Homo sapiens: one gene and its partners. The protein of the gene in region 1 purifies or fractionates together with the protein of each later gene. This does not show direct contact. Each region holds a gene or a part of one and is shown in the gene's direction. Other genes may lie near its edges.

The links.
Region 2: the proteins of CERK (region 1) and RBM26 purify together in Homo sapiens (affinity purification with mass spectrometry; one large-scale study listed by BioGRID and IntAct). This does not show direct contact.
Region 3: the proteins of CERK (region 1) and UTP4 purify together in Homo sapiens (affinity purification with mass spectrometry; one large-scale study listed by BioGRID and IntAct). This does not show direct contact.
Region 4: the proteins of CERK (region 1) and WDR43 purify together in Homo sapiens (affinity purification with mass spectrometry; one large-scale study listed by BioGRID and IntAct). This does not show direct contact.
Region 5: the proteins of CERK (region 1) and DDX23 purify together in Homo sapiens (affinity purification with mass spectrometry; one large-scale study listed by BioGRID and IntAct). This does not show direct contact.
Region 6: the proteins of CERK (region 1) and CCDC174 purify together in Homo sapiens (affinity purification with mass spectrometry; one large-scale study listed by BioGRID and IntAct). This does not show direct contact.
Region 7: the proteins of CERK (region 1) and CELF1 purify together in Homo sapiens (affinity purification with mass spectrometry; one large-scale study listed by BioGRID and IntAct). This does not show direct contact.

The regions. Positions count from the first base shown.
Region 1 is NC_000022.11:46,689,466-46,693,764, reverse strand, and holds part of CERK (ceramide kinase), read left to right. Parts: intron 1-261; coding exon 262-338; intron 339-1,987; coding exon 1,988-2,193; intron 2,194-3,564; coding exon 3,565-3,773; intron 3,774-4,299. UniProt on the Homo sapiens protein: Catalyzes specifically the phosphorylation of ceramide to form ceramide 1-phosphate.
Region 2 is NC_000013.11:79,371,346-79,375,644, reverse strand, and holds part of RBM26 (RNA-binding protein 26), read left to right. Parts: intron 1-3,714; coding exon 3,715-3,803; intron 3,804-4,299. UniProt on the Homo sapiens protein: May be involved in the turnover of nuclear polyadenylated (pA+) RNA.
Region 3 is NC_000016.10:69,166,412-69,170,147, forward strand, and holds the end of UTP4 (U3 small nucleolar RNA-associated protein 4 homolog), read left to right. Parts: intron 1-663; coding exon 664-774; intron 775-2,409; coding exon 2,410-2,526; 3' UTR 2,527-2,610; downstream 2,611-3,736. UniProt on the Homo sapiens protein: Ribosome biogenesis factor. Involved in nucleolar processing of pre-18S ribosomal RNA. Part of the small subunit (SSU) processome, first precursor of the small eukaryotic ribosomal subunit.
Region 4 is NC_000002.12:28,897,278-28,901,576, forward strand, and holds part of WDR43 (WD repeat-containing protein 43), read left to right. Parts: intron 1-4,299. UniProt on the Homo sapiens protein: Ribosome biogenesis factor that coordinates hyperactive transcription and ribogenesis. Part of the small subunit (SSU) processome, first precursor of the small eukaryotic ribosomal subunit.
Region 5 is NC_000012.12:48,831,858-48,835,610, reverse strand, and holds part of DDX23 (probable ATP-dependent RNA helicase DDX23), read left to right. Parts: intron 1-1,113; coding exon 1,114-1,291; intron 1,292-2,091; coding exon 2,092-2,334; intron 2,335-3,037; coding exon 3,038-3,189; intron 3,190-3,424; coding exon 3,425-3,533; intron 3,534-3,753. UniProt on the Homo sapiens protein: Involved in pre-mRNA splicing and its phosphorylated form (by SRPK2) is required for spliceosomal B complex formation.
Region 6 is NC_000003.12:14,657,463-14,661,761, forward strand, and holds part of CCDC174 (coiled-coil domain-containing protein 174), read left to right. Parts: intron 1-1,249; exon of another isoform or gene 1,250-1,328; intron 1,329-1,408; coding exon 1,409-1,467; intron 1,468-1,628; exon of another isoform or gene 1,629-1,728; intron 1,729-4,067; coding exon 4,068-4,245; intron 4,246-4,299. UniProt on the Homo sapiens protein: Probably involved in neuronal development.
Region 7 is NC_000011.10:47,469,402-47,473,700, reverse strand, and holds part of CELF1 (CUGBP Elav-like family member 1), read left to right. Parts: intron 1-469; coding exon 470-613; intron 614-1,323; coding exon of another isoform or gene 1,324-1,343; coding exon 1,344-1,471; 3' UTR 1,472-4,299. UniProt on the Homo sapiens protein: RNA-binding protein implicated in the regulation of several post-transcriptional events. Involved in pre-mRNA alternative splicing, mRNA translation and stability.

The DNA.
Region 1 (4,299 bases):
CTCCAGGTGGCACCTCAGCGTCCTCATGCTGTGCTTCTCCTCATGTCCAAACCTTTTAGAGAAGGACATGTTGAATGTGTCATTGTAAAAGTAGGTCTCATTCTGAAACCTCTAATTAATATGCCAAAAAATATTTTGTTAAGCCTTTGAAATGGAATTTTTTCGTATGTGAAAAGAATGTAAATACATCTATATGTGCCAAGCATACGCACTGCACCTGCAGCTCCATATTTAAAAGGTGATGATATTCTTGTCTTTCAGATGCTTTGTTTGCAGGCAAAGCAAGCAGCAGCTGGAGGAGGAGCAGAAGAAAGCACTGTATGGTTTGGAAGCTGCGGGTAATTCCTAAAACACAGGCTCAGTGTTGTCACTGTGTGTGCTGGAGTGCGGGTTTCTGTCCTCTCTCAGGGCACTGCCTCTTCTCCCTGCCCACCTGTGCTTTTCCTTTTTCCTGTCTGGCACCAGGCATCCATTTCTTCTTAGCCCCAGGCAGCGTCAGGTCACTGTTACTTGCCGTGTGTGGCTGTGTGGAGCAGTGGGTTTTGTGAAAGGCCCCGTTACCCTTTCTGAAACGCTGTTGTGGTGCTGAGTCTGGACTCCTGTCCCAGGTGCTCTAGAATGTGGGGGCAGCAGATGTCCCATTGAGGGCTTGCTTGGTGACCACCTCAGGCCCTGGCAACCACACAGTCTCTGTCCAGCAGAGGCAGCCTAGGCAGTGTACAGTGAGTGGGTATGGCCATCTGCCGATGAAACTTTATTTATGGACACTGAAATTTAAGTTTCATAGAATTTCCACATGTCACAAAATATTATTATTTTGATTTTTTTCTCTTTCTCTTCTTTTTTTTTTTTTTTTTTTTGGATGGAGTTTCACTCTTGTCGCCCAGGCTAGAGTGCAGGGGCACAATATCAGCTCACTGCAACCTCCGCCTCCCGAGTTCAAGCGATTCTCCTCCCTCAGCCTCCCTAGTAGCTGGGACTACAGGCATGTGCCACCATGCCCAGCTAATCTTTGTATTTTTAGTAAAGATGGGGTTTCACCATGTTGGCCAGGCTGGTCTCAAACTCCTGACCTCAGGTGATCTGACTGCCTCAGCCTCCTAAAGTGCTGGGACCACAGGTCTGAGCCACCATGCCCAGTCAATAATATTTATTTATTTATTGGGACAGAGTCTTGTTCCATCACCCAGGCTGGATTGCAGTGGCGCGATCTCGGCTCACTGCAACCTCCACCTTCTGGGTTCAAGCGATTCTCCTTCCTTAGCCTCCTGAGTAGCTGGGATTACAGGCGCCTGCCGCCATACCTGGCTAATTTTTTTTTTTTTTTTTTTTTTTTTTAAGACAGAGTTTTACTCTTGTTGCCCAGTCTGGAGTGCAATGGCGCAATCTCAGCTCACTGCAACCTCTGCCTTCCGGGTTCAAGCAGTTCTCCTGCCTCAGCTTCCCCAGCAGCTGGGATTACAGGCATGCACCGCCACGCCTGGCTAATTTTTGTATTTTTAGTAGAGATGGTTTTCACCATGTTGGCCAGGCTGGTCTCGAACTCCTGACCTCAGGTGATCTGCCCGCCTCGGCCTCCCAAAGTGCTGGGATTACAGGCGTGAGCCACCGCGCCAGACCTTTTTCAAGGATTTAAAAACGTGAAAAGCATTCTTAGCTCTCAGGCCACACACAGACGGGCGGCGGGCCGGATCTGACACACAGCCTTGGTTTGCTGACCCTTGTTCTAAATTGTCCAAAAGTCACCAAGTGAGGAGAGGGACAACAGTCCTGCCTTCTGGGAGGTGATCCTTTGGGTACCACTTCCTGCGGGGAGCGGACAGTTCCGTGGTGGATGTTTTTGGTGTTGAGCTGAAGAGTCGATTGCATGAAGTGTCTGCTAAATGCATGAGCAGGTGAGAGCCCGAATGGCCTCCCACCGTCCTGGTGCAGGGCGCTGCCCGGCGCCATTGTAACTGTGACATCTCCGTGGTTCTTTGTGCTTCAGAGGACGTGGAGGAGTGGCAAGTCGTCTGTGGGAAGTTTCTGGCCATCAATGCCACAAACATGTCCTGTGCTTGTCGCCGGAGCCCCAGGGGCCTCTCCCCGGCTGCCCACTTGGGAGACGGGTCTTCTGACCTCATCCTCATCCGGAAATGCTCCAGGTTCAATTTTCTGAGATTTCTCATCAGGCACACCAACCAGCAGGACCAGGTAAGTGGGGTGCTCTTGCATGGAGCCTCCACTGGCGAGTAATTTATGTTCCAGCAGTCCCTGGTTTATGTGTTGTAGGAATTCATTATTTAATTCAAGGGAAGGAAGGGCAAACTTTTTTTTTTTTAATTTCACAAACTTTAAACTCCTGGTTACAACTACTCCTTGTAAAATATCATTTAAAACGATAAATTTTTGAGGCCAGATGCGGTGGCTCATGCCTGTAATCCCAGCACTTTGGGAGGCTGAGGCAGGCGGATCACCCGAGGTCAGGAGTTTGAGACCAGCCTGGGCAACATGGTGAAACCTCATCTCTACTAAAAATACAAAAAAGCCAGGCGTGGTGGCGTGCGCCTGTAATCCCAGCTACTCGGGAGGCTGAAGCATGAGAATCGCTTGAACCCAGGAGGTGGAGGCTACAGTGAGCTGAGATCACGCAACTGCACTCCAGCCTGGGTGACAGAGTGAGACTCCATCTCAAATATATGTGTGTGTGTGTGTGTGTGTGTGTGTGTATGTATGTATACATGTGTGTGTATGTGTATATATACATATATGTGTATATACATACACATACATACATATACACACATACATACATATACACACACATACATACATACATATACACACACATGTATTTGAGCACAGAAACTAAGAGGTATGAATCTTTATAATACAACTTCTTACCCGTTGTTTCTCTTCCTATTTAAAAACAGAACAAAGCGACACAGTAAAGATGTAAGTGGCCCTTGCAGGCCACTGAAAATAGACTCTTTAGGCTCCCAGAAATGGGTTCTGTTCGGACCCTTCTACCACATCTTTCTGTAGCCTATGCAGAGGAAGACCCGAGTCTAGTCATGTTGGGGGAAGCGGAACTTTTGGTCACAGTCTCCAAATTTAGTCACATTTCTTTTTTTACTTAAGTTCTATTTAAGATCTAGTCTAATGCTATTTTTATGTGGCTTTTTAAGTAGTGCTTGTTAAAAAGAGAATACAAAATTCTAATAATCACTGCTAATTATTTATCAGAATTCTGTAAAAAGCGTTCGTCATTGTAGATAAGCTGTGGTTTCTAAAAGCATTAGAAGTCATTTTGACAAGTGCCGCGGAAGGTGGGCACCGGGGAAGGTAGGCGCCGGGGAAGGTGGGCGCCGGGAAAGGTGGGTGCCAGGTTTCCCTTCATCTCTGAGCTGTCAGTTCAGCTGGAAAGGGAACTCCAGGGGCCTGCACAAGCAGTCGCATCCTCCGAGAAGGGCCGTGTGTGCACCCAGGCCTGACAGCGCTCGCTGTCAGGCCTGGGGTGTTCTGCTGCCCCACCCAGACGATGACGTTTAGAGCTGAATGGTCCCTCTCACTGTTTCTTGGTAGTTTGACTTCACTTTTGTTGAAGTTTATCGCGTCAAGAAATTCCAGTTTACGTCGAAGCACATGGAGGATGAGGACAGCGACCTCAAGGAGGGGGGGAAGAAGCGCTTTGGGCACATTTGCAGCAGCCACCCCTCCTGCTGCTGCACCGTCTCCAACAGCTCCTGGAACTGCGACGGGGAGGTCCTGCACAGCCCTGCCATCGAGGTCAGGTGCGTGCAGGGGTCCTCCAGCCACCAGCGCCATCCCCTTGAGCCCTGAGGTGTCTGTCACAAGCTGCCCCACCCAGGGTGGGGGGTTCCCTGGGGCTTTATAAACACAAAACGTAAGAATGTTTTATAAATGCACTTTTCTCTCCCTATGTCAAATATCGAATGAGATGCCGTTACCCACATTCTGGAAAGATGCCAGGGTGCCGAGTCCTCAGCATTTTGTTTTGCAGATAATTTTCATGGGTGTTTGAAGCTCCTCCATTTCATTCTTTTCCTCTTCCACACCCTGTGCTCCAGGCTGGCATTGGGCTCTTTGCCCTGGCATTCTCTCTCTCTTCTCCTAAATAATTCAAAAGGTGGGAGGCTGAGGCGGGCAGATCACTTGAGATCAGGAGTTCAAGACCAGCCTCGCCAACATGGTGAAACCCCGTCTCTACTAAAAATACAAAAAAAATTAGTCGGGTGTGATGGTGCATGCCTGTAATCCCAGCTACCCCGGAGGCTGAGGCAGGAGAGTCGCTTGAAC
Region 2 (4,299 bases), on another chromosome or scaffold:
CTGAACCTATTTCATACCTAACAGTATAAGGGTTCTGTTAGGAAGAAAGGGACGGTGTATATTGTGTTGGCAATTGCTTATGCAACATAGAGATATGCAATGGTTTATTCAAGTTTTGCCTACTGGTGGAACTTTGGTTTGGTTTCAGATTTTTGCTGTGAAAAATTATACTTTGGCTGGGCACTGTGGCTCTCGCCTGTAATTCCAGCACTTTGGGAGGCTGAGGCGGGTGGATCACCTTAGGTCAGGAGTTCAAGACCAGCTTGGCCAATATGGTGAAACCCTGTCGCTACTAAAAACAAAAATTAGCCAGGCATGGTGGCAGGTGCCTGTAATCCCAGTTACTCGAGAAGCTGAGACAGGAGAATCGCTTGAACCTGGGAGGCAGAGGTTGTAGTGAGCTGAGACCATGCCATTGCACTCCAGCCTGTGTGACAAGAGCTAAACTCCGTCTCAAAAAAAAAATATATATATATAATATATATAAATATGAATAATATATATTATTTATTTTTAAAATATAAATATATATTTATATGATATATATAAATATATATTTATATATATCATATAAATATATAAAAATATAAATATATAGTATATAAAAAATGTATAAAATATATATAATATATATATTATATGTATGCTTTAATTCTCAGAAAATCTTGAGTAAATCACAGTCCCTTGGCTTGAGTAGTCTTCCCCTAAATCGAGTTAGTAGCAAAGCCTTAGTCTTATTATCTATTGATGTAATAATACTTCCTGTTTTTTCAACCAATTGTGGGAGATACTTATCCCTGATCTTTCAGAATTGTTGAAATGCCAGATGGCAATCTACGTTTAAAATGCTGTGGCTATACTAAAAGTTTGCAGATGGGCATGTACTGTGGAATATGGTGATCTGTTAGATAACTCGCAAAAGTGCATTGAGGAAATAGAAGGGAAAGAGTGCATCAGAAGGGTCGTATTAGTACCCGGTTTTTTGTCTGGTCTGGGAGGAGAGCTGGAATAGGTGGAAAGAGTACGAAAGTACTTGAATTTAAAAAGGCAAACTGTTGAAAGAATGCTTTAAAGATTATTTCTCCTAGTTTGGTCTGTTAATAGGATTTCCATTTGATTTCTCATCTAAAGTGGCACACTTTTTTTTGTTTGTTTTTTGAGACGGAGTCTTAGTCTATTGCCCAGGCTGGAGTGTCGTGGCCCCATAGTGGCTCACTGCAACCTCTGCCTCCTGGGTTCAAGCAATTCTCCTCTCTCAGCCTCCCAAGTATCCCTCCTGTAATCCCCTTTTGGGATTACAGGCGCGTGCCACCATGCCCAGCTAATTTTTGTATTTTTAGTAGAGATGATATTTCAGCGTGTTGGCCAGGCTGGTCTTAAACTGCTGACCTCAAGTGATCCACCCACCTCTGCCTTTAAAAGTGCTGGGATTATAGGTGTGAGCCACTGTGCCCAGCATAAAGTGGTACATTCTGACAGTCAGAAGCCCTTATCAAAAGGATGCTGGAACAGCTGGCATAAACTGGGACATGTGTACCCTGTGCGTAGACTACCTGCATGAGAATATCTTATGGTTCTCAGTAACACAAAATCTTGAGCCCTATCTTATTTATAGAAGCCACTTGCACGATATTTCCTGAATTTGTTCAACCTCTAAGTCCCTTTTTCTAATTACCTAGAAAAACAGTGATTCCTGTCGTTCCTGTTGTTGAGGACCATTATTCTCAACAATATAGTCTGGAGAAAGTAGCACTGAGAATATTTTCCAAGGTTGCTTTCTAGTAGCTATATAATGTGAATGGAGGCACCTTGTAGGAAACAGAAATATATAGCTGTCATGCTGCTGTGAGAAACTGGAGAACTATTTCACCTTATATATTGTTTTCCCAGATATATATATATAAAATATTATATATTATTATATATAGTAATATATATATATAAAATATTATATATTATTATATATAGTAATATATAATATATAAATATATAAATAGACTATATAAATATATATAGTAATATATAATATATAAATATACTATATAAATATATATAGTAATATATAAATATATTATATAAATATATATAGTAATATATAAATATATTATATAAATATATATAGTAATATATATAAATAAGTATATTTATACATATTATATATATTTGTATATTTATACATATTATATATATTTATATATAATATATAATATATATTTATATTTTATTTATATATAGTATATAATATATATTATATATATTTATATATAATATATATTATATATTTATATATTTTATTTATATATAATATATATTTTATATTTATATATATTTATTTATATTTTTATATATTTATATATAAATATATAAATACATTAGAACTCACCAAGTCATAAATACATACACACATAAACATATACATATTTATATATATTTATATATTTTTATATATTTTATATATTTATATAAAAATTTATATAAATATATAATACATAAAATATATAATATATAAGATATATCTTATATATTATATAAAATATGTAATATATAAGATATATCTTATATATTATATAAAATATGTAATATATAAGATATATCTTATATATTATATAAAATATGTAATATATAAGATATATCTTATATATTATATAAAATATGTAATATATAAGATATATCTTATATATTATATAAAATATGTAATATATAAGATATATCTTATATATTATATAAAATATGTAATATATAAGATATATTTTATATAGCATATAAAATATTATAAATATATTTATATTTATATAATATATAATATATTTATATAAAATATTTATTATAAATATATATCATATAATTATAATATATATCATATAATTATATATAATATAAAATATATAATAAATTACAATATGATACATAAATATATATAATATGTAAATATATATTTATATATATAAACATGTATATGTTTGTGTGTGTGTATGTATTTATGACTTGGTGAGTTCTAATGTATTCTCCTATATTCCTTGATGTGTTTGGTACCACACCAAGTCCACGAAACCAAAACATGAATATATGTTAGACTTTTGAAAGAGGAATAAAATTGGATTTCCATTAATTATGTTAAATGAGCATACTTGCTTAAAATGTTTTCTCACCAATGTAATCATTTCATTATAGTTAAATGATTATACTTAGTAGAGAAATTTACTTTGTTTGGATAATTTTAGAAGATGACAATTTTGCTTCTACGTTATATAAACTAATTTTAATGTTAATTAAATTTTATTTAATGTTAATTAAATGTTAATGTTAATAAAGTCATTAAAGCAGTAATGTGTCTAAGGCTTTTTTTTGTTTGTTTGTTTGTTTTGAGGCAGAGCCTCACTCTGTCGCCCAGGCTGGAGTGTGCACTGGCGCGATCTCAGCTCACTGCAACCTCTGCCTGCCAGGTTCAAGCGATTCTCTTTCCTCAGCCTCCAGAGTAGCTGGGATTACAGGCCCCTGCCACTGTGCCCAGCTAATCTTTGTATTTTTAGTAGAGACAGGGTTTCACCATGTTGGCCAGGCTGGTGTCGAACTTCCGACTTCGTGAACCACCCGCCTCAGCCTCCCAAAGTGCTGGCATTACAGGCATGAACCACTGTGCCCAGCCCTATCTAAGGCTATTTAACAGTGGAATAATTACTAAACTTGTACACTTTTTTTTTTTTTTTTAATCAGATCACTAAGGAGGAAGAGCGAGAGAAGAAGTTTTCTAGAAGGCTAAATCACAGTCCTCCCCAGTCAAGCTCCCGATACAGGGAAAATAGGTGAGCAGTTCATTGAACCATACTCAGTGTTTCGATGTAAGTTATCTTTTATACAAATGTTTAGACTTGGGTTATCTTTTACGCAGAGGCAAGTAATATCTACTCTTTTATTGGTCTAGGAAAATATAACTAGGTCCGTTTCTACCATGAAAATCTAGGTCAGATTTGTAGATCTTGGGAGTGAGTTTAGAACAGTGCTTGACATATATTAGCTGCTTATCTTTTTATTCCTAACTTCAGATTCCAGTAGAATCTTAATGTGTGGGTGTTTTTTTTTTGCCTGCTGTTTCCATTTAGTGTGATTAAATTGTTTTTCTCATTCAGGCTTCAAAAGCACTTAGAATACAATGCATGTGATACATGTCTGTAAGTGAGATTATATGTACGGGATAGTATGTTCTATATGTACTCTAAGTCTTATATACAGATGCCTTTATCTACAGATGCCTAATTGTATAGTTGCCAATGTGTAATAAGACTAAGGGTTAAGGCTTTA
Region 3 (3,736 bases), on another chromosome or scaffold:
AAGGGCCCCTCCCACTCTCTTGCCTCTTTGTAATTGAGCCCAGATCATTTTTTCCAAAGCATTGGCTTTAAGTTCATCGCTTCCTTACAGTAGGCATAGCTATTTCCCAGGAAGTCAGAGACAAAATATCATTTCTTTGGCCAGAGGCCACCTCGAGGTGTCAGTGACATCAGCACAGGTGGTTTGTGTTGAGGTTTCGCCTGGGGAGAACTCCAGTCACTTGTCCAGTCTGTGATCTGGTTGGGGGAGAGTCTAGAAAGCACAGACCCTGTGTGGGCTGAGCTCCTGCACTTGCCAGTTTGTTCCATTCTGACAAAGTGATACTGATGAGACAGGCCAGAAGCCGCAGAAGGGCCCTTTGATCTTGCTGCATGGAGTTAACAAGCTCTCTTTGCCTCATACACCCACCCTCTACAGTGTGGCTGCAAGAGTAGCTTCAGCTCTTTCTCCCTCTCTCTCCTTTTCTTCTTTTTTTCCCCCCTAGTTTTTCTGAATAGAGGTATTATGGCTACAGCTGTTTTCCCGAATTAACGAATGTCAGGGAGGTACTGAATATATATGATGGTTAGAAGATGATGTTGGGCTCAAAATGCACTACAGATCTTTGGTCTGCAGAAGCCCAATAAAAGTAACCATTTAAACAATGTGTCTTTGTTTTTTTAGCCCCTTCCAAATGACAAAACCTTACTCTACAATCCATTTCCTCCCACGAATGAATCAGATGTCATCCGGAGGCGCACAGCTCATGCTTTTAAAATTTCTAAGATATATAAGGTAAAACATCTTGTGTTGTTATTCTGGATAGTTGGTTCCTTTGTGATACCAAAATGTAATAAACTCCACAATCGGAAGATAAGAGCACCTTCAGTTTCCATGCAGAGAACCTGGCTTGTGGGAGACAAGTCACCTTTTTGAGGCTGGCTGTCCCTTGTATATGTTTTATTGTTCTTGCCTTAGTAGGTTAGAGGCAGGCACATCATACTTAACCAAAATGAAATGCGTAAGTAGTGAGAAATGTTGGCGCTGAGGGTAGAGTCTTTGTTGTCATGAGAGCTGGCTTTAAATTTTACTTGTTGGAGTGTTCCATAGGATAAATGTCAAGCAGGCTGGGCTTGGTAGCTCATACCTGTAATCCCAGCACTTTGGGAGGCCAAGGCAGGTGGATCTCCTCAGCCCAGGAATTCAAAACCAGCCTGGGCACCATGGTGAAACCCCATCACTATTAACAAAAAAAAAAAAAGGAGAGTTCTGTAAATTACTGATTACTCAAATGACTCAAATGTGATTAGCTTCTTGATGCATTTGTAGCTTGCCAGTTGTCAGTTGCCTTAGGCTGGGTATGGTGATTCACGCCTGTAATCTCAGTACTTTAGGAGGTTGAGGCTGGAGTTCAAGACCAGTCTGGGCAACATAGTGAGACCCTGTCTCTACAAAAAAAAAAAAAATATAAAAATTAGCTAGGTGTGGTGGAGCATGCCTGTAGTCCCAGCTGCTCAAGAGGCTGAGATGGGAGGATAGCTTGTGCTCAGGAGTTCAAGGCTGCGGTGAGTATGATTGCACCACTGCACTCCAGGCTGGGTAACATCGAGATTCTGTCTGAGAAAAAAAAGAACTTAGGCTTTAAAGTCCTTGCTTAACATTGATTCTTGAGATATAAGAAGCATAGATTTTCTATCCAGAGAAATGTAAAAAAATCCTGCTGAGACCTTTTATGAGTGAACTTAGTTAAAAGCTCCCAATCTTGGCCGGGCGCAGTGGCTCACGCCTGTAATCCCAGCACTTTGGGAGGCCAAGGTGGGCGGATCACGAGTTCAGGAGATCGAGACCATCCTGGCTAACACGGTGAAACCCCATCTCTACTAAAAATACAAAAAATTAGCCGGGCGTGGTGGTGGGCACCTGTAGTCCCAGCTACCCGGGAGGCTGAGGCGGGAGAATGGCGTGAACCCGGGAGGCGGAGCTTGCCGTGAGCCGAGATTGCGCCACTGCACTCCAGCCTGGGCGGCAGAGCGAGACTGTCTCAAAAAAAAAAAAAAAAAAAAAAAAGGCTCCCAATCTTGAGCCAGGCGCAGCCGTGCACACCTACCTATTGTCCCAGCTACTCAGGAGACTGAGGCAGGATGATTGCCCAGGAGTTCAGGGCTTCAGTGCACGTTGATCATGTCTATGAATGACCACTGCTCTCCTGCCTAGGCAACATAGCAAGATCTCTAAAAAATAAAAAAAAAAGCTTTTATGCATTCCAACTATTTTGAGTCCCAGGGCAGGAAAGATTGTCAAGAAATTTAAATCATTTGAGCCTTGAACTAGGCTAACCTTTTAGCTTAGATGGTGTCTACCTACAGTCAGTTCTTTCAGGACTAGCCCTGGATCCTAAGTCCTGATAGAATAATTATCATCCCTCTGCAGCCTCTACTCTTCATGGATCTTTTGGATGAAAGAACACTCGTGGCAGTAGAACGGCCTCTGGATGACATCATTGCTCAGCTCCCACCACCCATTAAAAAGAAGAAATTTGGAACCTAAAACAGGGCACTGTCTGTGTCCTTCCTTGAACTGTCTACCCTGTTGCTTTTCACAAATCATGGTAATAAAACAAGTTATTCTTGAGGACTAGTCATTATAAATGTTTTCTTCCAAAATAATGGACAGTCATTTCCCTTCATTGAATGAAAATGAATGGAAATTCCAAATGAGGTATTTGTATTGGGGATAATGTGCTCAGTAGCTACAAACTCATCTAATGTTGATTGAGTCCTGCTTATTCTGTAGGCCGCAATCTCAGAAGAAAAGATATTTGTGTTCTGTTCCCTATTACATGCCTAAGGCTTCAGAGAGCTGATAGCCTTCACTTCCTGCCAGCCCCCAGCCCATGGAACTGCGTAGGAATCTGCCCATCCTCGCCCTGGAGGGCAGAGGACCGTAATTACTTACCCAGGATAGCCTGACCACTAATAACCATAATCAGCCTTAGAGTTCAAGGAAGAATTTCAACTCCAGCATTATAAGGGAGTGCTCCATCTAAAAAATAGATGCCTTTGACCTTTGACAGTCAGCCGTTAATTTTATTTAAAAGTAAAAAAAGCTTGGGTTATCAGTCCCATTAACTGCCTTTTTACCTGTTATGTGCTGGTTTCAAAAGGTATGGAAGGGCCAGGCATGGTGGCTCATGCCTGTAATCCCAGCATTTTAGGAGGCCAAGGTGGGAGCATCCTTGAGTCCAGAGACCAACCCGGGCAACATAGGGAGACCCTATCCCTAAAGAAATACAATATGAAAAAAAAGATACAGGAGCTGGGCACACATCAGTAGTCCCAGCTACTCGAGAGGCTCAGTGGAGCCCAGGAGCTTGAGACCATAGTGTGCTATGATCATACTGGTGAATAGCCACTGCACTCCAGCCTGGGCAACATAGTGTGAGACCCTGTCTCTTTAAAAAAAAAAAAAAAAAAAAGGGTAAGGAAACACTGGGCAGGAATTTTGTTAGGGATTAAGAGTAGAGATGGGGACCCGAGAGCCCACCATGTATTTCACATTTTTCATTCTCTTCTACCTGCTCTGACATTGTTATTCCCACGTGTGTTATCAACTGGCCAGTTTTAATGTGATCTTTAAATTAGAAAGTGAAGAACTCTAGTTAACTAAACTGAGCAGATAGATTTCTTTCCCTTCTCGGGATGTATTCTGTTGCATGCCTGCGTAAACCCAGTTTGTGTGGTTTTTGTTTGTTTTGGGG
Region 4 (4,299 bases), on another chromosome or scaffold:
ACAAGATATCTTAGAAAAAAAAGGCACATGTTAAGGTGCTCTCATCTTATTAAACCCTTCCTTTTATTTTACATCTTTGAGGCTTAGTGTATGAGGCATGAAAAGGATGTTGCTCTGAACCCACTTTCCAGCATTTTGTTAAGGTCCTGCTATATGATGACATATAGTACTCTCAAATTTGAAATAGAGGTATCATCACCCACCTTTTAGGATCCTCAGGATCAAATTAGGCAATGTATGTGACTGGTGTAGTATGGCCTAGTATGTAATAAGTGGCTTAATAAATGTTATTATTGAGTGAATCTGGACTCGTTTTACCATTTAATTTGGCATTTAATATGGTAAATCAATTTGTAAGAAAAGTATTCTATGTTTGGTTTAGTAATTGGCAGTTTGCTACGCAAGGACAAAGTGTGGTGATGATAACTCATCAATGGAGAAAGATTAGTTAGTGCTGGGTTTCTTGGGTAACGGGTTAAGTTTGTGGTTCACAGGTGTTTAGAAAAATTAGATTGTCACCTCTTGTTGGTCACAGAATGATTACAATACTTTGCATTCGTGCCACAATAGTTTTTAGAGGGTTTTTGTACGTTATGTAGCTGAGCATTCCATTTGGTCTTTGGAGCCTGGGGGAAGAGGACCTTTAATGAGGACAAGAAGATAGGAAAGTGCAAAAATACAAATGGAGGGACTCTATCTAGATGGATGCTGTTTTTAAGAGTTCCTCAAGTTTATGTGTGTAAACTGAGGCAGAAATGTTAATTATATTCTCTACCAAAGCCACATAGTAAAGTGACTGAGCCACCTAGGAACTGATGCTGCTATTTGATTGTCTTCAAACTTTTGAAAGTCTTCCGACTTTTCTGCTTTTCCTTCTCTAACAGACCTTGTCTGCTATTGGCTATCACAGTAAATGTGTTTATACTGCTTTGCTGTCACTGCAATTAAGATGACCCTATACAGCTTAGTACTTGTTGAATGAAGCACATGGCATTTCAGACATTGGACAGGGTGTCTGAGTTGGGTATCTGCATTACCATCCCTTAGAGATGTAGGGCAGTTCACATGTGCTGTGCAGTGGTCTGTCTTGAGGTCTTGCTAACAGTTAAACTTCCTAAGAAGTAAAGGTTGCAGATAGATCTGATTGGCAGAAATAGAAGTTTCTGTGTATTAGGACTTAATTGATTTGTTATAAATACTGTATGTGATTTTTTGTAAAATGAATACATTTTGTTCACTGTTATCTGTGAAACACACATGCAGTGGCAGTGAGATAGATGAAGAAATGGATTAGGAGACTAATTGCAGAATGAAACTTGAAACTTGGCATACTTTTTGGTGTCTAGAGTTCAGTATTTCTCAGAGCAGATTTTGATCCATTAGTGGATTATGTAATAAACTTAGTGGATTGTAACATTAAAAAAAAAACAAAATAGAATGGAAAGTATCAGAGTACTACTAGCCGTGGGAAGTTTCTCTGTGAAGCTTGTTTCTATATGTGTATTTTTATGAGAGTGTAGTGACTGCATGTAAAACTCCTCTTTTTCTGGGATTTTAGTCTAAAAAGTCATTACTTTAATTGCTGTACAAATTCAGACTTCTCATCACCTGAATGTGCTTTTTTCTGTCTTCATCCCATCTGTACAACTCCTTGCTTTTATAAATTATGCACATGTGCCATTCAGATTCTCCCTCAGCCTTCTGATTGTTTCTGGATCAAATGCTGATGATGGATCAAATGCTGATAAGCTTTTCTCATAAGACAGGTTTCAGTATTCGTTGCTTAACTCAGTTTGCCCTTCATGGTGGAAAAGACTCCTTAGTCCGAGAAATCACCTCCTTGGGGTATTCACTTCTGATGCCTTCAGGAATTGAGATTTTCCAGTTACAAATATATAAACTAAATTTTTTAGCCTACCTTTTTATTACTTAATATATTTATCTGTATAATCTGTGCTGGGCACTTAAGAGGAAACACAACTGACTGTGACTAAAGTGTAAAAGAAGAAATACATTTCATATTTGCCGTGTCTAATGCAGGGTATGACATGTGTCTTAAGGGAAAGAAGTTTCCGTGGAGGAGGTGGTATTTGAGGTGGGCCTTAAAGCATGGATAGGATTTTTAACCAATGAAAATTGAGGTGAGTAGGAAAGGTCCCCTTCCAAGTGAAGGAAAAGCAAAAGCAAAATAGGAAAATGGGTGTATAGGGAGTGTTAACCTAAGGATGGAATTGGAGATAAGACTAGAGAAGGTGGGTTGAAGGCAAATTGTGGATGCTTTTAAATGCCATAGAACTGTTTATATTGATTTATTCTCTGGAGAGTCATTGAAGTTTTTTTGATCACAGGAATAACATGTTTAGATAGTAAATGCCAACAGAAGTTTCTCATCTATAATCAGTAGCACTAAACTCTTGGTTTGAAAAATATTTAGTATGGGTAATACTTGGAGTATCAGTTTTCATTAAAATGTACATTGGTTATATACACTTCTGGTCTGATGTGTTACCTTTTTAAATATGCTTATCCTGCTGAATAAAGACCATCCAACCTGAAAAATAAATGAGTCCTGAGTTCTTTAAGTTCAATAAATTGGAGTAATATTTAGGTTTAGACCAGTTATCCTTAAAGTTGGTCATAAATGCTGTAGATATTCCTTCCGCCTGCCCCTGCTTGCTTCTACCAAAAAATACAGAGATTTGCAGATGCAGAAATTAAGGCTTTGACTATGTTATGCTTGACATAGGCTATGTAAATTTCTAAAATTTCTTTGTGCTTTTTAATGGAAATTCAAATTGGCAATAAAGCATACGCATATTTGGACCTGTCTTTGTTTCACACATCGAGAAACTTCCATTTAGATAGTTTTTATTTGGGAAAACCAAGAGTAGAAGAAAGATTTCATGGAATCTTTTTTTCGTTTTGTTTTGTTTGAGATGAGTCTCTGTCGCCCAGGCTGGAGTGTAGTGGCAGGATCTCGGCTCACTGCAACCTCTGCCTCCCGGGTTCAAGCAATTCTCTGCCACCTGAGTAGTTGGGATTACTAGCGCCCACCACCACGCCCGGCTAATTTTTTTTGTATTTTTAGTAGAGACGGGGTTTCACCATGTTGGCCAGGCTGGTCTTGAACTCCTGACCTCGTGATCCACCTGCCTCAGCCTCCCAAAGTGCTGGGATTACAGGCGTGAGCCACCACACTCAGCCTTCTTGGAATCTTTTTAAAAAGATGAATCTTTTCCTGCTGAGATGGTACTAGGTTAATGTACTTCCCCCAACTCTCCTTGCCTGAAATAGGTGTTTGTATTTATAACCTTATACAGAAATTATTTTTGCCCCTGGAATCATTCAAAGGTAGCTTTAGAAATTCATGTAACTGAAACGGGGACCTAGAACACTCCTAAAATTGAGGTTTCAATGTTTCAACAAGTTAAATGAGACCATCAGACTTTGTACTTTGGCTTTTAATTGTAACTTCTCTTTTGTGTTTATTAGTACATTTCTAAGGACTTGCAAGATATATTTCTAAGGACTTGCAAGATGTGTATTATTTTTTTCTGTAAGTAGGTTACCTTTTTTTGTTAGACTGCATTTCATCTGTGTCCAATGAATCAAATTCTTTAAATGTAAAATCCCCCTAGGATAACTAAAAGAAAAAAATGGAAAGTGCTTTTTAAGTCTACTCCCTGACACTCTTTATGCACTGGTAACGTTGTGGTTGTCATTGGTTTTTCTTGAATTAAGACAGATTTTTAGGTGTCTTGGGCTGTGTGCATGCCCATGCGTGCTGTAGAGCTAAGATCCTGCACTATTAAGAAGATATTCTCTTTTCTATGGTATTGGCTTGTTTTACAGTGAAAGAATGGATTTCTCAGAACTTTATGCTAAAAACATATAGGCTGGTGAGCCGTAATTTAAAAAAACACGGAAGAGAAGTTCTGAAATCATAATAAATACTCAGCATTATAAACTGATGTAGTGCTTTTAAGTTAGGGTCATTGTCTTTTTGTTGGGAAGACATGAGCTGTTAACATCACTTTTGAAATGAAAGAAGTCTTGTGGCATTTGCCACTTGAGTGAGACTTTTGTCTCTGAAGTCACTGAATCACTGAGCCAGCCCTTGACCAGTCAGTGGGGCAACTTCTCTCTTGTGTGCTCTGAGCTGCTCTACTAGTTAAAGCTATTTGTTGACTCAAATTGAAGTTAATGCACGTTTATAAAGGTAAAAACTTTTGAGGCTCTTTTCTTGACAACTAAGCTAGAATTTGTGGAAAAATTAGGAGAGATAAAGGAGAGTTGGCT
Region 5 (3,753 bases), on another chromosome or scaffold:
AGCCTCCCAAGTAGCTGGGATTATAGGTGCCCGTCACCATGCCCGGCTAATTTTTTTGTATTTTTAGTAGAGACGGGGTCTCAATGTTGGTCAGGCTGGTCTCTAACTCCTGACCTCAAGTGATCTGCCTGCCTCAGCCTCCCAAAGTGTTGGAATTACAGGCGTGAGCCAGTGTGCCTGTCCTTAATTTTTACATTTTTAGTAGAGATGAGGTTTCACCATGTTGGCCAGGCTGGTCTCAAACTCCCGATCTCAACTGATCTGCCTGCCTTGGCCTCCCAAAGTGCTGGGATTACAGGCGTGAACCACTGCACCTGGCTGAATCTCTGATTTTTATGTATTTATTATTTATTTATTTATTTATTTTTTGAGATGGAGTCTCGCTCTATTGTCTAGGCTGGAGTGCAGTGGTGTGATCTTGGCTTACAGCAACCGTTGCCTCCCAGGCTCATATCCTCCTACCTCAGCCTCCCAAGTAGCTGGGATTACAGGTGTGTTCGAACATGCCCAGCTAATTTTTGTATTTTTTGTAGAAACAGGGTTTTACCATGTTGCCTAGACTGGTCTCAAACTCCTGGGCTCAAGTGATTCACTCACCTCAGCCTCCGAAAGTGCTCGGATTATAGGCTTGTGCCACCTTGCCTGGCCTCTGGACTTATTTTTATTTTTATTTTTTTTGGAGACAGAGTGTCTCTGTCACCCAGGCTGGAGTGCAGTGGCGTGATCTCAGCTCACTGCAACCTCTGTCTCCTGGGTTCAAGCGATTCTTCTGCCTCAGCCTCCCGAGTAGCTGGTATTACAGGCGCCGGCCACCACGCCTGGCTAATTTTTGTATTTTTATTAGAGGCAGGGTTTCACCATGTTGGCCAGGCTGGTCTCAAACTCCTGACTTCAGGTGATCCGCCTGCCTCAGCCTCCCAAAGTTCTGGGATTACAGACATGAGCCACCATGCCCAGCCCTGGCCTCTGATTTTTAAGTGAGATCATTGCATTCTTTTCTCATCATCCTCCCCATTCCCATTGCTCCCCGTAAGAGTGACTTTGTCTTGCTCTGGCTTGTGGTTGGATAAGAACCAAAGCTCACGAAGCTGTGGGGCACCCTGTTTACCACAGGATCGAAGAGTCAGACCAAGGCCCTTATGCCATCATCCTGGCTCCCACCCGTGAGTTGGCTCAACAGATTGAGGAAGAGACCATCAAGTTTGGGAAACCGCTAGGTATCCGCACTGTGGCTGTCATTGGTGGCATCTCCAGAGAAGACCAGGGCTTCAGGCTGCGCATGGGTTGTGAGGTTTGTTTTTCTATCTAGCAGCCAGCCTGCTGTCTGGGAAGGCTATCTTGGGGCTTTGTTTCTAGTTTCTGGAATATATGTGCAGTAGTATGAAGAAAGGAGCTGGTTTATATATATGTGCTATTTATTGAGAACTTATGCACCAGGGTTTATATCACAAATAGTATATATCATATATATTAGCTCATTAATTCTCACAATAATGTATGAGAGTGGTATTTCCTTGTTATAGATCAAGCTGAGGTTCAGGTTAATAACTGCCTGAAGTCACAAACAGCTGGCAATGGGCAGAGCTGAGACTCATATCCATAGCCTGTGCTTTTAGTTACTCTTTACTCTGCCAGACCAAATCTTTGACTTTGTGCATTGCCTTCATCTCAGGAAAGTGGAGGAGAGCTCTTTATGAGAAGTCTGCTGTAGAAATTTAGTCTTTTTACAATTTTTTAAAAAAATTTAGTCTTTATACAACCCCCTTCATAGTACCCCTTAGTCTCTCCCATCTAAGAAGTTCCTTCTTCAGGATCTGAAATGATTTGCCAAAAAAAAAAAAGTTTCTACTGATTTTGCCTCCTCTGTCTAATCCTTGCACCTTACTCAGAGACCTCATTCATTCCTGAGAAAATCCAGGCAACAAGTGATTTCATGCCAGTTTGCAGGAGCCTTTACTGCTAAACATAACCAGAGGTTGGGGTCCAAGTTCCTCAGCATTGGAGGTCTGTCACCCAAGTGGGTGGATAGTTCACAGGAAAGAAAAGAAGGGGCACCTGCTGGGCTATAAATGATTATACTGTACTCCTCAGATTGTGATTGCTACCCCTGGGCGTTTGATTGATGTGCTGGAGAACCGCTACCTGGTGCTGAGCCGCTGTACCTATGTGGTTCTGGATGAGGCAGATAGGATGATTGACATGGGCTTTGAGCCAGATGTCCAGAAGATCCTGGAGCACATGCCTGTCAGCAACCAGAAGCCAGACACGGATGAGGCTGAGGACCCTGAGAAGATGCTGGCCAACTTTGAGTCGGGAAAACATAAGTACCGCCAAGTAAGGCTGCTTCCCTGGGCTGGGAAAAGTTGGACAGGCCAAGGCGGGTGGATCACTTGAGCTCAGGAGTTTGAGACCAGCCTGGGCAACATGGCGAAACTCCGTCTCTACAAAAATTTAAAAAATTAGCTGGGCATTGGTGGTGCACACCTGTGGTGCCAGCCACTCAGGAGGCTGAGGTGGGAGGACCTCTTAAGCCTGGGAGGCAGTGGTCGCAGTGAGCTGAGGTCGTGCCACTACTCCATTCCATCCTGGGCAACAGAGTGAGGCCCTGTCTCAAAAAAAAAGAAAAGTTGTACAAGGTTGCCAACCTCCTTTTGGGCCTTTCTTGCCTTAGGTGGGCTCAGAGTACATGTTTCTAGAATGAAGTGTGCCTAGGTACAGTCCTCTGACAGTCCTAAGGGTGGAGCCATTTAGCTTAGCCCTGGAAAAACGATTCCAAAGACTCATGCTGCTACCGGGACCACAGGTGCTAGCAAATGCTCTCAATCCTTCCTGTCATCATAAGATGGAAAGTGCCTTGATGAGCAGGTACTCAGGAAGGATGGGAATTCAGAGGACACTATTTTCTAAGGTGGTGGCTATCAAAGCCTATACTGTGGCCCATTTTAGATTCTTTAGTCTGGGCTGACCTGCCTTCGGTGACAGTGGGATATATGATTATTCCTGCCTGGGTGCAGGGCTGAGCCTCCTGTTTTCGTAGACAGTCATGTTCACGGCCACCATGCCCCCAGCGGTGGAGCGTCTGGCCAGGAGCTATCTTCGGCGACCTGCTGTGGTGTACATTGGCTCCGCAGGCAAGCCCCATGAGCGTGTGGAACAGAAGGTCTTCCTCATGTCAGAGTCAGAAAAGAGGTATGAGGGCAGCTGAGCCAGGGGAAACAGGGTGGAGAATAAAATGGCTCTGAGAACTTTTTTAGTGCAGGTGCAGGGCAGGGCAATTGCTCTGCTGTGTTGAAGAGCTGCTGTTTTCTTGGGCAGAATGTCATGGGCATTAAAGACCCTGAAAGTAGTGTTCATAGATGAGGGTTGGGCATTTCACTTGGAGTGGGAGGTATTATGCATCTTGTTTTTCTCCTCTTCCTTCCAGGAAAAAGCTGCTGGCAATCTTGGAGCAAGGCTTTGACCCACCCATCATTATTTTTGTCAACCAGAAGAAGGGCTGCGACGTGTTGGCCAAATCCCTGGAGAAGATGGGGGTGTGTCTGGCAGGGGAGAACAAAGTCTAGCCTCTGTGGCACTGCTTTCTGAATCTAGCAGGGCCCCCTAGGCTCTTCCTTTCAAGTCTCACCCTTTCTTTAGCCTGTCCAGCAATCAACAAGTTAGGACCAGGGTGAAGGGTGGTTTGAGGGAATAAAGAGAATGGAATCAATTGCTGGGACCCCCTGTCTGCTGCAGTAATGCCAGCCAAAGCTGCCT
Region 6 (4,299 bases), on another chromosome or scaffold:
TTCTAACTCAACAGAAGAAACTGTTCTTTAAAGTCACTAGTGACATCCTCATCCACTAAATCCAGCGGCCGTTTCCCTGACACCTTCCTTGATCTCAATTATCCATTTGTAGTCTGTTCCTAACCCCTGAAAACTGTTGCTACACTGCACCAAGTTTCATATCCTTTCTCACGTGCTCTCATCCCTGCCTGTCTCTGTCTCTATTTTGCACCATTCTCTATTTTGCTCAGCACCCTCTGCTCTACTGGTCTCTCTTGAAAATGTCAAGCTCATCCTCACTTAATCTTTCCTTTTTCTGACCTGCCTTCCCTGCCCCCAGATCCTCCTGTGGTTGGCTGCTTCTTGCTGTGCAAGCCATGGCTCCGTTTTCATGTTCAGAGAGGTTTCCCCTGACTGCCCTCTCTCAGTTAGTGTCCTGCCCACTCACTCTAACCTGACACTTGTTGCTTTGTGTTCTGTTTGACTTTTAAATTTTTTCTAGTTTTCTTTTCATTAAAACAGTAAGATCCTCTGATGACCAGCTAGTTACAGTAAGAGCCCTCCAAAATAGGGGTCTTAGAAGCCTGATATGAGTGAGCCGGTCCACCATGCACTGCATTACTGCATGTCAAGGGGCCTCTCTGCTGGCATGCGTTTCTTCCCCTCACAGCTCTTCTCACAGTCTCAGGTCCTCCTTTTCATTCCTTTCTTTATTGTCCTTCTCCATCTCTAGAATGGGAACTCCCAGGAAGCTGGGACTTTTTCTTGTTCCTGTGAGTCCTCAGTGCCTAAAACAGTGCTTGGCAGGTAGGAGGTGTGCAATAAGTACTTGGTGAATGGATGTGTAAAATAAAAGAGGAATGTTTCTGACATTGTGATTAAGAGTGGTCATTCACAAGAGAACTCGCAGATCATCCACAAGAGAACTCTTTGGGGCTTCTCTTTACCATCATTAAGTATTTCCAGAATAAAGAATTGCTTACCCTCTCATGGTCTGTACCACTGAAAAATACATGTCATCAGAATTACTGTGAGCAGAGAGGCTGCTTTGTTGGAATGTTGACATTTGTTTTAAGTTGGCAGTTAAATTAAGTTGTTGGATTCTTAAGTCAGTTGATCCACTTATTCATTCATCAAATATTGATTGAGAACCTACTGTGTGCCAAGTGTTATTTTAGGCCCTGGGACCAAGTAATAAATAAGAGGACACAGGCCATGCACTCACGGAGCTTCTGTTTTCCTTGGCAGAGCAGACATGGGGCAGGGTGGTCTGAGGGTCTCCTCAGGATGGTGTGGTCTGTGCTGGTTGTGGTTGTCTTGACAGGCTGGGCCTCATGGGCAGATGGTACCTGTCAGGCAGGGAGTGTGGGGGCAACCAGGATGAACAGTTATAAGACCATTTCTAATACTTGTATTTTTTTTCTCCTAGGGAAAAATTGGAAGAAAAAGCCAAATTATATGAAAAAATGACTAAAGGAGACTTTATAGGTAAATAAAATTTGTTATTTCTACTTCATTTTCTATAATGCATACAGCCCTTTGATATTACATTACTTGTTAAAATAACTGTAGGAGTAGAGAGAAAATTTAGACGTCAAAATTTTACTTTCCATGGCTGCACAGAGACAAGAAAATCAGCAATAATTTACCAATTGTCTAGTGGGTGCCTGGCAGCATGTTAGGTGCCTGGAAGGGACAAACAAGTACTGGAAGCCAGATCCTCTGTCTCTGCCCTCAAGGCAGGGTCATCTGGTGGAGGAAAATGACACAGAACAAAGCAAAGTTAGGGAACAATGTCTGAGTAGGCCGCAATTACCTACAATTACAGCTGTGCTAAAACAGGGTGGGTTGGGCTGGGTGGAATTGTGGTTCTGTTAGGTGCTAGAGTTATGTTTCTTCTTTCCCTATTTTCCCTCTATTTTCAATTTTTTTTCTGTGCTGTGCTTATAATTGCTTTAAATCTGTTTGGGTGTAGTGGCTTACGCTTGTAATTCCAGCACTTTGGGAGGCCAAGGCAGGCAGATCACCTGATGGCAGGAGTTTGAGACCAGCCCGGGCAACATGGTGAGACTCTGTCTCTACAAAAAGTAATTTAAAAATTAGCTGGACATGGTGGTTCATGCCTATAGTCCCATTATTTAGGAGCCTGAGGCTTGAGCTCAGGACTTTGAGATTACAGTGAGCTGTTGATCATGCCACTGCATCCTCGGTGCAGTAAGCTATGATCCAGCCTGGGTGACAGAGTGTGACCCTATCTCTAAAAAAAAAACAAAAAACTCCCTTTTCTCATATCCCCCAGAAAAAACCCAATCCATAATTAGACAACAGTAGAAGAGATTTTATGAGGCAGGGAGAGTGAATATGTAATCAGGGAAGTCTTTTGGGAGAAGTTGGGCTTAGCTTTGGCAAGCTGGAGAAAGGGATCCTGCAGGGGTAGATTGGTAAGCAGACCAGCTGAGGAGGGCAGGGCCAGAGGTCAACAGAGTCACCTAGCCTAGCATGGCTGGGGCCCAGGTACAGTAGGAGAGAGGCCAGGCTGGTCCTAGGTCCCTGACCGCTTCTTCCCAGACAGCAGGGGCACTTTCCCTGTATAGCAGGAGCCTGGCACAGGAAGGTCAGACACTCAACAAAGCTAGGTACTGTGGGAGAGGTTTTGCCTTCTTCCTGAAGGGGCAGCAGGATGGCCGCCTACCAGGAGGCCTCACTAGCCTATGGCCTTATAACTCAGACATTTCCTCTCCATTTCAGGTATTTCATGGTTTTAAAAAATAAGTTTATTTCAGGCTAGGCGTGGTGGCTCATGCCTGTAATCCCAGCATTTTGGGAGGCCGAGGCGGGTGGATCACAAGGTCAGGAGTTTGAGACCAGCCCAGCCAACATGGCGAAACTCCATCTCTACTAAAAATACAAAAATTTGCCAGGCGTGGTGGCAGGCACCTGTAGTCTCAGCTACTCAGGACGCTGAGGCAGGAGAATCACTTGAACCCGCGAGGCGGAGGTTGCAGTGAGCCAAGATAGTGCCACTGCACTCTAGCCTGGGCGACGGAGTGAGATTCAGATTCAGAAAAAGAAAAAAAAAGTTTATTTTATTAAAGTCTTTTCTGTTTTGATTCAAACTTTACTTATGTTGTTAATATAGAAATCAGGTCCAAAGGAGTGTGAAGGTAGAGACCTGGTTTTGTCAAAGCCAGCAAGCCTACCTCCTGATAGATATGTCAGACCTGCAAGTTTGGGCAAGTTATATTTTGGAGCCTCAGTTTTTCTTCACCCTAAGGTGGGGAAAACACCACCCCTGGTAATAGGGAGCTTAATGTGGGTTCAATGTAGCTTAATCTCTGTCATCAGAGAAAAAGACTCAAATGACTGTGTCCTAAATCCAGCATAGTGAAACTTTAGGTATACATTATTTGTGCTACATGAGCTATCCTGGGTTAAATTAGGTAAGTCATGGATTGTTGTTTAACTTTCAGTGTGTGTTTTAGCTCCTCGAGTGGACCATAAGCCCTGCAGGCAGAGGGTGTCTTGCATATCTGTATATGCCCTGCAGGGCCGGGCTCTATGCCTTGCCTGGAATTGGTGTTCATTGGCTTGACAAGAACTCAGATGACTTCTTTTACCTGTATTATGACCTTTAAAACACTTACCATACCACAGCAGTATAATCAGGGTTAGTGATCCAGCCCACATGGTGAGACAGATATATAACGCCTAAAGCAAGAAGTTCTACTGTCCTGATCTGATGACACGGAAAATGCAGTTTTGCTTCCGTATGATGTAATTGGTTGGATGAGTTGCATAAAATCAGACTGTTGTGTTATCTTAAAATGACATTCTAAGATGGTTTTGCTCACTCAGGTAGTGTATTGATGAGGCAATAGAAAACTTTAGGCTTTTTCAAGATTTTTTTGTGTAGTATATGTCAGTTCCCAAGGTAGCTGTGTGTCTTTGTAAACATTTGGGGAGTGGAGGCATTGGCTGATGAGCTGTCAGGGGTGATGGGGCCACCAGGCAATGAATGTGACTGCTTCTTGTCCATTCCATGTGTGATTTTCCTTTTTGATGTCTGAAAACTGATTTTTATGTCCTAGATGAAGAAGTAGAGGATATGTACCTTGTGGATTTCACACAGAAGATCATAGACAAGCGCAAAGAAATGGAGGCATCTGGTGCCCATAGAGATTCTCAAAAGGCAGGAGAAAGGGACGACGATGAGGAAAACCTTCCTGAGGGAGAGATCCCTCCTCCCCAAGACCCCAGTGAAGAATGGTTGGTAACATCATGGATTAGCTCAGAGGAACATCCTCAGACTTGCGCTGACAT
Region 7 (4,299 bases), on another chromosome or scaffold:
CCATCACCCCTAGAAATTCCCTCGTGCCCCTTTGTAGTCATTCCCTGCATCTGGCAACTACCAATCTGTTTGCTGTCCCTGTGGTTTCTAGGCATTATTTGGAAACCTGTTTTGTTTATAACCCCTTTTCACCTCCTCTTCTGTGTTCCTCTCTGAGCCTACAGTCTCTGTTTTCCTGCTCCACACACAAGTCGGCCTGCTTTATTATCCCAACACTCCTCCTCCTGCGGGTAGAATTTCTCACATCCTCAATGAGATGGAGCTTGGCTGAATGTGAGGGAAGGAATCTGTTTTAATGTTTGCCTTTGGTTCCTTGCTTTGTATTTAGAGAATCTGTTTAGTTCCCCAGATGAATCTCTGTTTTTAGGGATTGTGACAGTTTTAACATAGGTGGAAATGAAAGATCACTGGTGCAGGGCGACGAGCATGTTTGACACTGATACTTTTCCAATTCCTGGGTATTTTGAAGGTCCAGAGGGAGCCAACCTGTTCATCTACCACCTGCCCCAGGAGTTTGGTGATCAGGACCTGCTGCAGATGTTTATGCCCTTTGGGAATGTCGTGTCTGCCAAGGTTTTCATAGACAAGCAGACAAACCTGAGCAAGTGTTTTGGTATGTTGGCTTCTCTCTGGTGTCAGGATGGGATTAGTATTTTACCACTGAGAAAGAAGGAGCTCACTGCAGAAAGATCTGAATATGAGTTTGTGGTGTTGTTTTAACTTGGCCATGGGCAGGTCATTATGACCTCTTTTTGAGCCCCAGTTTCTCATTGCTGTAGTGGAGGTAAGGATTTCTACCCACACTGTTGCTCCAGAGAGAAAAATAATATATGGAAAATGGTTTGCAAAAAAACCTTTAAACAGTCCAGGTTTGTGCCTGTAAGTCCCAGTACTTGGGGAGGCCAAGGCAGGAGGATCGCTTGAGCCTAGGAGTTCGAGACCAGCCTGAGCAACAGAGTGAGACCTCATGGCTACAAAAAATTAGTCAGACGTGGTGGCGTGTACCTGTGTTCCCAGCTACTTGAGGCTGAGGTGAGAGGATCACCTGAGCCCAGGAGGCCAAGGTTGCAGTGAACCATGGTCACACCACTGTACTCCACCCTGGGTGACAGAGCAAGACCCTGTCTCAAGAAAAAGAAAAAAACCTTTAAATTACCATGTAGCTGTTAAGTGGTACTATTAAGAACCTAATTTATTTCGTATGACATAATGTCCAGATTTCTTGTCCCTGCTGAATAAAATTGGGATTTGAGATGAAGCACATAAGGTATCTTGCATAAGGAGGACTGAGAATCTCCTTGCCTCATTATGTCCCTCACCTAGGTTTCTGCTTGGACACACAGGTTTTGTAAGTTACGACAATCCTGTTTCGGCCCAAGCTGCCATCCAGTCCATGAACGGCTTTCAGATTGGCATGAAGCGGCTTAAAGTGCAGCTCAAACGTTCGAAGAATGACAGCAAGCCCTACTGAGCGTGCTCCCCTCTGAGACTGGAGTGAGAGGGTCTTCTGGTAAGTGGGGGAGGAGCACCCTTAATGATTCGAAGCCCTGAGGCTGTGTGTTGACAGCCCTGGACCCTGATCCCTGCCACTCTCGCAGGCACAGCTTGCCCTGAAGACTCGGCTACTGCCTTCTGTGGGAGTTTCGCTTCGTACAGAGGACAAGTTTGTGCTTTGGTTTCCAGTGTTTTACTTTGGAGTTTAGGTGCCATATCCTGAGGTTTTTTTTGTTTTTGTTTTTGTTTCTCCTTTATTTAAAGTTTGCTGTGTTTGTAACCAGTGTGTGTTGAGAAGGACCAACACCAAACCACCCTGGGGAAGGGGGACAGGGAAACATTTAACACAGACGATGATCAGGATTTGCCCCAAACCACCCCAAGAGAGAGGACTGAGTGGAACAAAAAAGTGACCCCCAGAACCTCTCTTAGTGTGAGGGTGGGTAGAATGAGAACTGACACCTGGGAGCTGTGGGGAGCAGAGCGGCTTTGGGGAAGAGTGGAGTGACTAGACACCTAATGCCCTGGCAGCTGGAGACTCAAACTCCTGTACAGCTACCTTCTGGGAAATAGTTTTTGACACCTATTTTTCAGATTCTTGTCCGGAATTTCTGCTGCTCTTTTCAAAAAAGGGCATTAACAATTCTCTGGAAATAAAGCACCTGTTAGCCTGACATATGCAAAAAGCAGGGCGGCATCACCCATTACGAGCTCCCCCAGCCAGCAGTCAGTATTGGATTGGCCTTGCCTGGCTGGTGGCAGTTTGGGAGAAACAGCCAAAGAGGTTAGTTTATTTCAACACCAAATTAGACCATGGCCCATTTCCAACGGGTCTCTTTAAAGGCCTCTATGGAATACATTGCCTGGTTTCCTTCTTTGCAGTTCACCACAGCAAGGAATGTCACCTCCATCCCAAGCCACCATTTTCTCATGAAGGCAAATCCAAGAAGGGCTTGCAGTTCTTGCTGAAGGGGGTACCATTTGTGGGCAGAGTGATCAATACCATCTAGTTGGGGGAGGAGGAGCTTATTTCTTGGTGTACTTGAATCAGAAGGTCCCTGCAAGCCAGTATGCTTCATTTGCCAGTGGCCAGAAATTCTCCCTTGCCTCCTTGATTGAGGTGTCCCAGATGTAGTATTCCCACAGGGGTCTGGCAGGCCCCTCCTGTAACCACTCCAGTCACATTTTCTGCTCTTGAGGCAGAGGTGACATCAGGACGTTTACAGCCTCCACATGAATTGAGTGTTCATTTACCTCAGTATTACCGTGTTCATTTTTGTCCTCGTGCTACAGTTAGCTCCCTGCCGCCTCTTGCAGGTCTTACTTCAGCTCTTGCCTGTGACCCACACAGCTTCTGGGCTCTGCCTCTGCTCTAAGAAGTGCTGTGGGGGTAGAGAACCAGGAAGGACATGCTGTTGGGAATGTACACCTGGGCAGAGGTGGCCCTGTTAAGATGTGACTGTAGCCACAGCCAGGGATGGGATCCCTGGGTCTCTGGAATCTGAAACCTCAACAAATACCAGTCTTGACCCCTAGCAGCAGAGATAAGAATAAAGGGGTTGGTTTGCTATTAAGTCAGATGGGGGCTCTCTCCTTGTCATGCTGTCCCTGTGGGTAACAGACAGGGATTGACCATCTTACTGTTGTACAGGTAGCTGGTGGTGTTGGATTATCCCATTGAAGCTGGGACAGCTGTTCCTTTCTCATAGTGATAACTTGGGTCTGTTGTCCTCTAAGGAACGTGAAACATACACTTCTTAAGCTGAACCACGTAAACTTGAAATTCTGCGCACTGGGAGAAATGTGTCCTGTGTTTCAAAGGATAAAACTGTTCTAAAGGCTTCCAGGGTCATGATGGGATTTTTTAAATAAATGCAAAAAATAAAAATAAAAAAGAAAAAAGAAAACAAAAAAAAAAAAGAAAAAAATGCTAGGTTGGGGAGGCGCTGTTCTGAATCCCAACCGGCTGGAACCAAGAATGTCGTTTCTATTTTTATAGAAGTTTTATACAGCTCCGGGGTGGAGAATATTTATTACCTAAATTATATCTCTGGAAAAGGCCAGGATTTTGTAGAATCCAGAATGTGATTGTTATACACACAGGGTGCTGTGTATGATTGAAACTACTGACTTTCTGTGGCCCGTTTGCAGCCCAGCTAACCTGCCCAAGGGGAAGGTGTTAATGCTGTGAATTGGCAGAGGAGAGAGCTGTGCTCCATAGGGTGCTGCCGGTGCTGTGCTCCCTAGCCTTCTGTTCTGTCTTCCTCCTTAGCCAGAACGCCACTCCCTTCCCACATCCCCTTCTTCTCTCCGCCTTCCCCCATCTCACCATTATTTGTCCATGGATTTGTCCTGGGCTCTGGGACCTTATGAAACCCCTTTCCTAATGACATAAGAGGCCAAGGTGCAATCCACCCACCTTTGATACCAGACCCTGAGGGCTTCATACCTGCTGATGGGTTTTCTTTTCTAAAAGGAATGCTCGCCCCAGCAGGGTCCTGGGCTGCTTGAGCAGCCAGCTGGTGAGACCATGCACTTCTCTGTTCTCTCCTCCCCCTGCCCAGTGAGTTAGCACAGCAGTAGCACTGCCCTTGAGCACAGTTCTTTCCCCAGGCCAAAGATGGTTTTGTGAAGAAGCTGCTCCCCTACAAGTCTCACGTGTGAAAGGGCTCAGCTCAGAGTGGAGACTCGCTGTCAAGTCTTAAGCAATCCTTTTCTGTTGTGTGAAGGTTTCACTTACAATGTGTTTTCTGCTGTAGTTTTGTTTCTTACTTGGGTTACATCATGAAATTGATTTGCCTTGAA